2 separate regions of the Homo sapiens genome follow, and region 1 is linked to region 2. Evidence: fine-mapped expression QTL. A gene starts in region 2. The other region holds a variant in brackets. All regions are shown on one strand. Distances are between the middles of the regions.

The links. PIP is the estimated chance that this variant, and not a neighbour inherited with it, causes the effect.
Region 1: its variant is the best candidate, but not a certain one, in a credible set for the expression of LINC01215 in whole blood (TOPMed, PIP 0.56).

The regions. Positions count from the first base shown.
Region 1 is chr3:108,116,913-108,121,452 of GRCh38, forward strand. It overlaps LOC105374031 (a long non-coding RNA gene), which reads left to right. Exons shown (of 8, transcript XR_007095997.1): 5 at 570-1,258; 6 at 3,432-3,531; 7 at 3,948-4,194. Among named protein-coding and RNA genes, the nearest start is that of LINC01215, 5.9 kb to the right of the region's middle. The variant G/T (reference allele first, on the strand shown) is at 2,372.
Region 2 is chr3:108,123,481-108,127,702 of GRCh38, forward strand. It overlaps LINC01215 (long intergenic non-protein coding RNA 1215), which reads left to right and starts at 1,584. Exons shown (of 2, transcript NR_110030.1): 1 at 1,584-1,662. RefSeq lists enhancers at 767-1,026, 821-1,321, 1,107-1,156, 1,227-1,366, 1,647-1,696 and 2 more.

The DNA of each region.
Region 1 (4,540 bases), 6.4 kb before region 2:
ATACAAGAATTTCTTCTAGAGAAATTATATATTATATTATATTCTTATTATGTATATTATGTGTGAGTGGCATTGCTGGGTTGAAGTGGATGTACATGTTCAACTTTACAAGCCATTGCTAAATTGTTTTCCTGAATGGCTGTACTAATTACATTCCCAACTGTAGAATATAAGATTCCTGTTGCTTGACTTTCTTGCCAATACTTTGATATTTTCAAGTATTGAAATCTGGTAGCCATTTTTCACCCAGTAGAGTTGCACTCACTTTTAAGGCTTATTGGTACAAGTTCTTAAAGACTGAAAAGGAGTTCTCAGAAACAAATCAAACCCATTTTTATTTGGGCTTCTCATTTCTCCTTGGGGTCAGACACTTAACAAGCTGTTCATAATATGTCATGCTGGGCCTAATGTTCAGCCCTTAGAAGAAAAGGCCATATCAGCTGAGACAAGTGAACAGCAGACAGAGTTAGGAATTAGGAAGCTTGGGCTCTAACCTGTTTCTGTCACTGAAGGTTTGCAGGGCCCACGTATGAGTCATGTCTCTGCTCTGCATCCTATCTGCTCACTAGGCATAACAGAACTGACCTTCCTCCCAGCCCTGTCGTGAGGATGAAATCCTGTGTGGAGCACTTTGAAATCTTTGGATGAAAAGCACGACAGAAGTGCCAAGTATGATTGTTACCCGTGCCAGCCACACTAGAAGACAGCATAAAAATAGGAAGCAAAGAAAATTTCATTTTACAAAAGCTTCAGTGAGAAAATTGGCTGGTCAGAATGTCATTCCCTAGTTTTGGTTCACATACACGTTGTCTTTTATAAAATTAAAGGAAAAAAATAATTGTACACATTTTTGTCTTTGCCGGGAAGAAGCCCTTTGATCATCACCATCCCTGCGACGCCAGGTGAGTCCCTGATGCAGAAGGAAGATCGATACATGAGGAGACCGTGTGGAATCAGTTATTTGTAGTTGCTCCCCAATTTCTGTTTTTCATTGCAAGGAATCGAAGCCATAAAGTCTGAGGGGGTGTTACAGGTTGAGGATTAGGGAGTGTCTAAACCTTGACATCGTCACAACATAGGATCCGAGATACCTCCAGCTAAAACAGAGACTGTGCTTTCAGAACTGGCCCTGCACGCAGCCTCTACTCCAGTGCTCTCAGGTCCTGTCCTTAATAGGAGAACATGAGAGCTGCAGATTTAAAAACCCAAGAGGGAACCTTTGCAACAACCTTTGTTATATTAGGAATCCCAAAATAAGGTGAGTCATGCCCGTTAGTGTGCACCTTCATCCTAAAAATGACTTAGCTGTAGTTTTAATAGCTTATGTCCATCTTGGTATAATGCTGTAAGTGAGTTGTGATGAGCTGTAATCACCTTTGCTTATAAATTTGGTAGACTGTGGAAACAGTTCCAAACCACAGAAGAGACATTTCAAACTCTGAGCTTGCTGCCTGATATGACACACAGAGAATTTAGAATAGGAGTTTTGGATGCTGTTGCCACGTCTTTACAGCCTGTCTTTTATACTGGAGTTTTAAAAAGTCAAAACCCTACAGGGTGGTTTGGTTGCTGCATCCCACTGAGAAGTTGAGAAAGTAAAAGGTAAGGGGGTGTAGCCATGGGCTTGTCAGGGGGACGTGAGTGACACTAGTCCACCCACAGCAACTGTTCCATGAAGTTATGAATCATATTGTACTCGACTTGTAATTTCCACCCAGGAAGGGAAAGCTACTGAGCACTATTGAAATGTTTTGTTCAGAAGTTTCTCAGAGGGAGGGTCTTCATAGTGTTTTATGGAATAATTTGCATTCTAATCGGCATAATTGAATTATTGCCATAGAATTTGCATGGTATGGCTCCAGTAGAAATACTTTCCATTAAGAAATAAATACTCCTTAGAGAGGAAAAAATGTCCATCCACTGTAGTATCCAGTCACATGACAATCTCTATTTATTCCTCTTCATAACCCCATGAGAAGGGTCATCCTCACTGGAGTTTCAATTTCTTAACCGAAGAAATTAGTTGAAAAGTGGAAATCCAACCTGCTGATAGTTTCTTTATCTGTCCACACCTAATAATGAGTTTGACTGATTCTTCTATTTAAATTGACAGATTATTTACACCTCTGTGAATTACAATGTTGCTATGGTCTTTCTTTCCTTTGCATTTGTGTGTGTGTGTGTGTGTGTGTGTGTGTGGTTAGAACGTCTATAGTCAGGCTAAAATTCAGATCCCATCTTTATAATTCTTGTTTGTGTAATATGAATTTATCACAATGGCAGGAGAGTGAATTATCATACAGCCTTGAAATATCACACTGATTAAGACAGCAGAGAGCCATAGGGAAATGATGGCATGTTAAGCGAAAAA[G/T]AGTAGGAAATTATATCTTTGCCATGTTTTCAAGTACTTAAATTGTGCATGTAGAAGCATGGGCTGAAAAAGAAATATGGAAAAAAGAAACAAATGGTTGGTTGAAATTATGGGATTATGAGAGTTCCCTCTCCACCTTTTTATTCTTTTGTTTTCCATTAACACTCTTACAACATTGCTTGTGTAATAAACATGATTGTAAAATTATTCAGCTGGGTGATTAACAATAGCCAAGATATGCAATCTGCTTAAGTGTCCACCAACAGATGAATGGATAAAGAACATGTGGTATATATACACAATGGAATATTATTCAGCCATAAAAAAGAATGAAACCTGTCATTTGCAGTAACATGAATGAGCCTGGGGGGGGCATTATGTTAAATGAAATAAACCAGGCACAGAAAGACAAATAACCGCATTATCTCACTCATATGTGGAATCCAAAAAGTAAAAGGTAAGGGGATGTAGCCATGGGCTTGTCAGGGGGACGTGAGTGACACGAGTCCACCCACAGCAACTGGAAGTTGCTGGAAGTAGAGTAGACTAGTGGTTACCAGAGGCTGGGAAGGGTGGGGTGGGGAATGGGGAGAAGTTGGTGAAAGGGTACAAAGTTACAGTTAGGCAGGAGGAAGTTAGATAAGAGCAAGATAGCAGTTGTGGTCTGGGCATAGTGGCTCACACCTATAATCCTAGAACTTCAGGTGGCTGAGGTGGGCAGATGGCATGAGCCCAGGAGTTTGAGACCAGCCTGGGCAACCTAGCAAAACCCCATCTGTACAAAAATTTAAAAAATTAGCCAAGCATGGTGGCAAGTGCCTGTAGTCCCAACTACTCAGGTGGCTGAGGTGGGAGGATCACCCGAGCCTGGGAAGGTCCAGGCTGCAGTGAGCCATGATCACACACTGTACTCCAGGCTGGGTGACAGGCTTAAACATTTTTGAAACCCCATCTCAAAAAAATAAAAAATAAGAATAGTTACAGTTAGATAAGCTCTAGTGTTCCATTGCACAGTAGGATGACTATCGTTAATAAAAATTTATTGTGTTTTTCAAAGCAGCTAGAAGAGAGGAATTTGAATGTTCTCAACACAAATGATAAATGTTTGAGATGATGGATATGCTAAATACACTTATTTGATCATTAAACATCGTATACAGGTATGGAAATATCACTTGTACCCCATATGTATATATAATTATTATGTATCAATTAAAAATAAAAGAATAAAATTATATTTCAAAAATACTTGGTTACAAGAGAAGATCTATCATAAAATGAATAAAGTTTAATAAATAAAGGACCTGAGTTACAGGTCCTTTCCCATGCACGGCCCCTGTGAGAGCCTGGGTTGCTAAGAGTGATAGAGTTCCAGGTGGAGAGAGGAAGCTGGGTTACAATCAGGAAACATTTCTATGTCAGCATTTTGGGTAAATTGCTTAAAGGGATCTCAGAAGAAAAGGAACTAATTCTCCAGCACTCCTGTAATTTGTCATGATATAATTTCTCATTCTAAGTAAATATTCGCTTTCATGCCTAATTTTGTATTTGCAATTTTGCATTCTTCTTCTTAAAGAGGGCTCCCATAATTGTATAAGCCTCATGCCTCACAAAACCTGAAGGTGCCTTTGGTGAGGAGGATCATCAGAACACCAGCAGAGTACCTCGACGTGTGAAATCTAGCACTGGATTCCATCCCTGACTTTTCCTAAGAATCACTGTGAATGCTCTGGACAAATTGCTGCTGCGCTGGGTGCTCCCTGTGTCATCACACTTCCTAATTGTACTTCTGGGTCCTCTGAAGCTGTTCCCAGTGCTTAATCGTAAGAAAAGAAGCTCCAAATACTAGTTCAGAAACTCAGGTAGAAAGAGACCTTAAATGTCATGTCCAGCCACTCTTCTGATGCTTGAGTCTTCTCTTCAGGAGGCATCTGGGCCTGGGCTTGGACCCCTTGCCTCAGTCAACCCATTAGAAGTGTCTTTCCTTGTCTTGAGTCAAAACCAGTCCACTGCTACTGGCATTGCTCTATACTTCCAGGCTGTACAGAAGATGTCTAACCTTTCAGATGAGAATGGCAGAGGAAAGCAAGAAGAAAGAAACTTTAATTGTTCCTCAACTTCCCAATTAGGCACACCATTAGGGGTTTTTAATATGGTTCTTGATTTAAT
Region 2 (4,222 bases):
TAGCTGTAAATAAAAGTCTTATTGTTTGGTTCTTGGTCTTTCCCCCCTCTCAGTGACAGGAAGAATAATAAAAGCAATGGCACTATTGTGTGAAATAAGTGTTTTCTCATCCAAAAGAAAACATGACATATACAATAGCAAACCATTTGCAAGCTGAAAAAGTAATTAATTGTATAATTCACTGAACATGATAGGAAAAGTGAATTATGATAAAGGAGAAGGACTGAGAGTTAACAAATGAAAATTTTATTTAAAAGTTTTAAAATTTTGTTTTTTTTAAAAAAGGAGAGCATTGAAAGGTGATTAATCTACAGAAACAAAGAACTATTTCAAACACATTTAAAAAGGCACAATTAGAAGAATACCGCAAAAATAAAAAGAAAAATTCAGTTTGATCTGAGGGGGAAAAGAAAAAGCTGTTTTCATGAAAAACAGATTTTGAAGTACTTTTGTCATCAGCTTCCTTTCAATTCTTCTGGTTAATTTCATGAAGGCTGTGCGACCTTTCAACTTCCAAATGTTTGCAGGAGGGAAGGGTGGTAACGTGTGAGTGGAAAAACAATTAATTTTCAAGGTATGGGATTTTATAGTAGAGACTTCCTTAGCAGGATGGACCGTGACAGGGTGTTAGTGATGGAGACCTTAGGAGGAGAGGGCAGAAGATATGGGTTTGAGGTCCTGATGTACTCTGCCTGCTGTGTGATCTTGGACAAGTTCCGACCCCTCTCAGGGGTTCAACATCTTCCTACCTACATGAAGTGATGGGATCAAACACCTCTGTGGCCCTCTCTAGTCTATATGTTTGCATTTCTAACTGTAGAGCATGATAAAAAAATAAATCAGAAGTCAGTGATCTTTAGGTTACTAGTCAGGATGAAACTCAAAAGATCTATTTTTAAAATTATGAGTATTGGGTGTGGTGAAAATATTCATATTTGGGGTCAGAGAGTTTTTCTAATAGAATCAATTCTAGAGCATTCAGACTTGCTCTCACCCCAAAGAGGAAGTGAATGAAAGCTCTTCTTTCTCCTCTGCTGCTTTCTTTGTCCATGGGAGTATGCAAATTTTTCTGGCAACACAGAAGACTGAACACAGGAAGCCTGAACCCCGTGAAGCCATAAGGCTTAGCATGGGTGTGGAGGGTGATCAACCCCTCATCTGTCATTCAGAACTCCATGCTGCAACACAGAGGGGAAAAAAAACCTTCTGCTCCCTGTTTCAACCTCAAGGGCAGAGAACACAGGCCGAGTTGCTGTTCTTGTCTCACAATCTGGAGGCCAGAAGTCTGAAATCAAGGTGTCGGCAGGATTGGCTCCTTCTGGGAGCTGCGAGGGAAGTATCTGTTCCAGGCCTCTCTCCTTGGCTTACAGATGGCTGTTGATATGGTTTGGCTGTGTCCTCACCCAAACCCCATCTTGAATTGTAGTTCCCATAATCTCCACGTGTCATGGAAGGGACCCGGGGGAGGTAATTGAATCATGGGGGCAGTTACCTTCACGCTGTTCTCGTGAAAGTGAGTGAGTTCTCAGGAGATCTGATAAGGGGACTTTCCTCATTTTACTCACTCAGTTCTCTTCCTGCCACCACTTGAAGAAGGACGTGTTTGCTTCCCCTTCTGCCGTGATTCTAAGTTTCCTGAGGCCTCCCCAGCCATGCTGAACTGTGAGTTAATTAAACCTCTTGCCTTTATAAATTACCCAGTCTTGGGTATGTCCTTATAGCAGCATGAGAATGGAAATACAGCCATCTTCTCCATGTGTCTCTTTACATTGTCTTCCCTCTGTAAGCGTTCGTTTCTGTTATAAGACACTAGTCTTATTGGATTAGAGACTGTAATGACCTCATTTAAATTTGATTACCTCAGTAAACACACTATCTCCAAATAAGGTCACATTCTGAAATATTCAGGGTTAGGACTCCAGTAATATCTTTTTGTGGGGAGACACACTTCAATCCATAACATACTATAAGAGAAGGGAGCGCTTACCACTGTCCATTACCTGGAACCAGTTCAGACAACCATCATCTTTCTACATGCGATGGAGAAAACAGTTCACCTGGGCATTTTTGCTATGACAGGAGGAAACGTCAATATCAAACCATTGGAGAAGGTAGCTGAGTCATTCATTTGTGGCAGCAACCATCTTTCCTTCCCGCACCCCCTGGCTAGGCTGCTCCATGTTGGGAGGTGGTGTGTTCAGTACAGCCACAGTGAGCTAAGTGAGGGCTTCAGCTGCAGGCTGGAGTGACCCAGGGAGGAACTGCCGCCTATCAAAAGGAAACACCTGCCACAGAAGGTTCACTGAAGCCTGAGAAAATAAACGTCAAGAGCTCTGGGCTGTGCCACCACCAGTCTCCACCACTATTCTGAGGCAGAATGCACCTATTGGCTCACAATGCTGTGAAAGAAAACAAGAAAGTCGTGATGGTGAGCGCTGCCCTGCAGAGATAATGAGCCACTAGAGTAGTTCTGAGGCAGGAGCCAGAGGAGCTGTGACACAGAGGCAGTCAGGGAGTGGGACTGGGGTCACAGGAGGGGCTGGACCCAGTGGTCTAGTGCCTCATCTCATTCCAGATATGTGACCTAAGATCTGCATGTGTGTGCCTGTGCATGTGTGTGCCTATGTGTATGTGGATATGTGGCAACATATATGTGCATGCATGTAAGTGAGTACACATGCATGTGCATGTGGTGGGGTGTGGGTGACTGGATAGAGGGAGCATGGGGAAAGGGAGGGAAAAGAGGGTTAAAACCGTGACAGGATAATAAGCATCTGAAATACTTAACTACAACAAAATGTTCTGAGGCTTTGTACAGCCTTATTTTCCAAACTGCAGGTTGTGGCTCAGCAGTCAGCTGGGAAATCAATTTACCCATGCAGAGATTCTTAACCTGGGTCTGTGGACACTGCCCTTTCCCCACAAGAGGCCCAAGGATAGAATTGTATTTCAATATCATTGATTTCCTTTGTAAGCCTAAGAGTTTTGCTTTATGCATTTAAAAACACTACAAGAAAGGATCCATAGGCTTCATCACATGGGGTAGAAATGGCACGTGCACACATGCATACACACACACACATACACACAAACAGATACACACACACACACAAACACATATACACACACACACAAGGTTAAAAATCTCTAGGTCAAAACCAGCATTTTAAAAAGTTATTAAGATAACTAGATTATAAAGAAATTAAAAAATTTGAGCTATGCATGTAATGAGGGTACTGTTTTGTGAAACTGGTTTTAGATATACAAATACTTGTGTATATAAAATATACATATGTATATGTGTGTACATATTTATGCACACACATTTATTTATTTGTTTATTTTGTGATGGAGTCTCGTTCTGTCACCCAGGCTGGAGTGCAGTGGCATGATCTCAGCTCACTGCAACCTGTCTCCCGGGTTCAAGCAATTCTCCTGCCTCAGCCTCCTAAGTAGCTGGAACTACAGGCATGCCACCATACCCAGCTAATTTTTGTATTTTTAGTAGAGACGGGGTTTCACCATGTTGGCCAGGATGGTCTCGATCTCCTGACCTTGTGATCTGCCCGCCTCAGCCTCCCAAAGTGCTGGGATTACAGGTGTGAGCCACCCTGCCTGGCCATTTATTTTTAACTGTAGGGCATAGGGCAAAAAATTGATAGCTAGTGTTCAATAGCCTACTGGACATTAGGGTAAAAGATTTTTTTAAAAAATTTTTAAAAATTATGAGTGAGGAATGTAGTGGGCCATTTGTGTTTCAGAGTGGAGGGCTCTGCTATTAGGCAGACATTTGACTTTTCACTCGGCACATCCACATTCCAGCCAGTCTCCCAGTGAATGGTGATAAGCTGGCCCTGATCATGCCTGTATGGCTACACCCCTCTCTGCCTTGTTGAGGCCTGAGTTAATTTGAAGTGTTGCAGAGACATGTGTTGATTCCTGTGGCTACAAGGCTCCCGGAAGTGTCAGAGGCAGAGGTATTGTTTCCTGGGAGGGGTGTCTTCCTGTGTACCGCTGGTGTACCACTGGTGTATGCCTGCCCAGAAGTTTGTTCTTTCACACCCACAGGGCCACCTGAAGAAACAGAGATAGGGTCTCCCACGGAATGGGGCAGCAAAAGAAGTAAAGCAAAAGTGAAGAAAAGAGAAATAGGGGGCAGCAAGTGTTCAGGAAAAGGGGGGTCAGATAGGAGAGAGAAGCAAAGAGAAAAATCAAAGTGTAT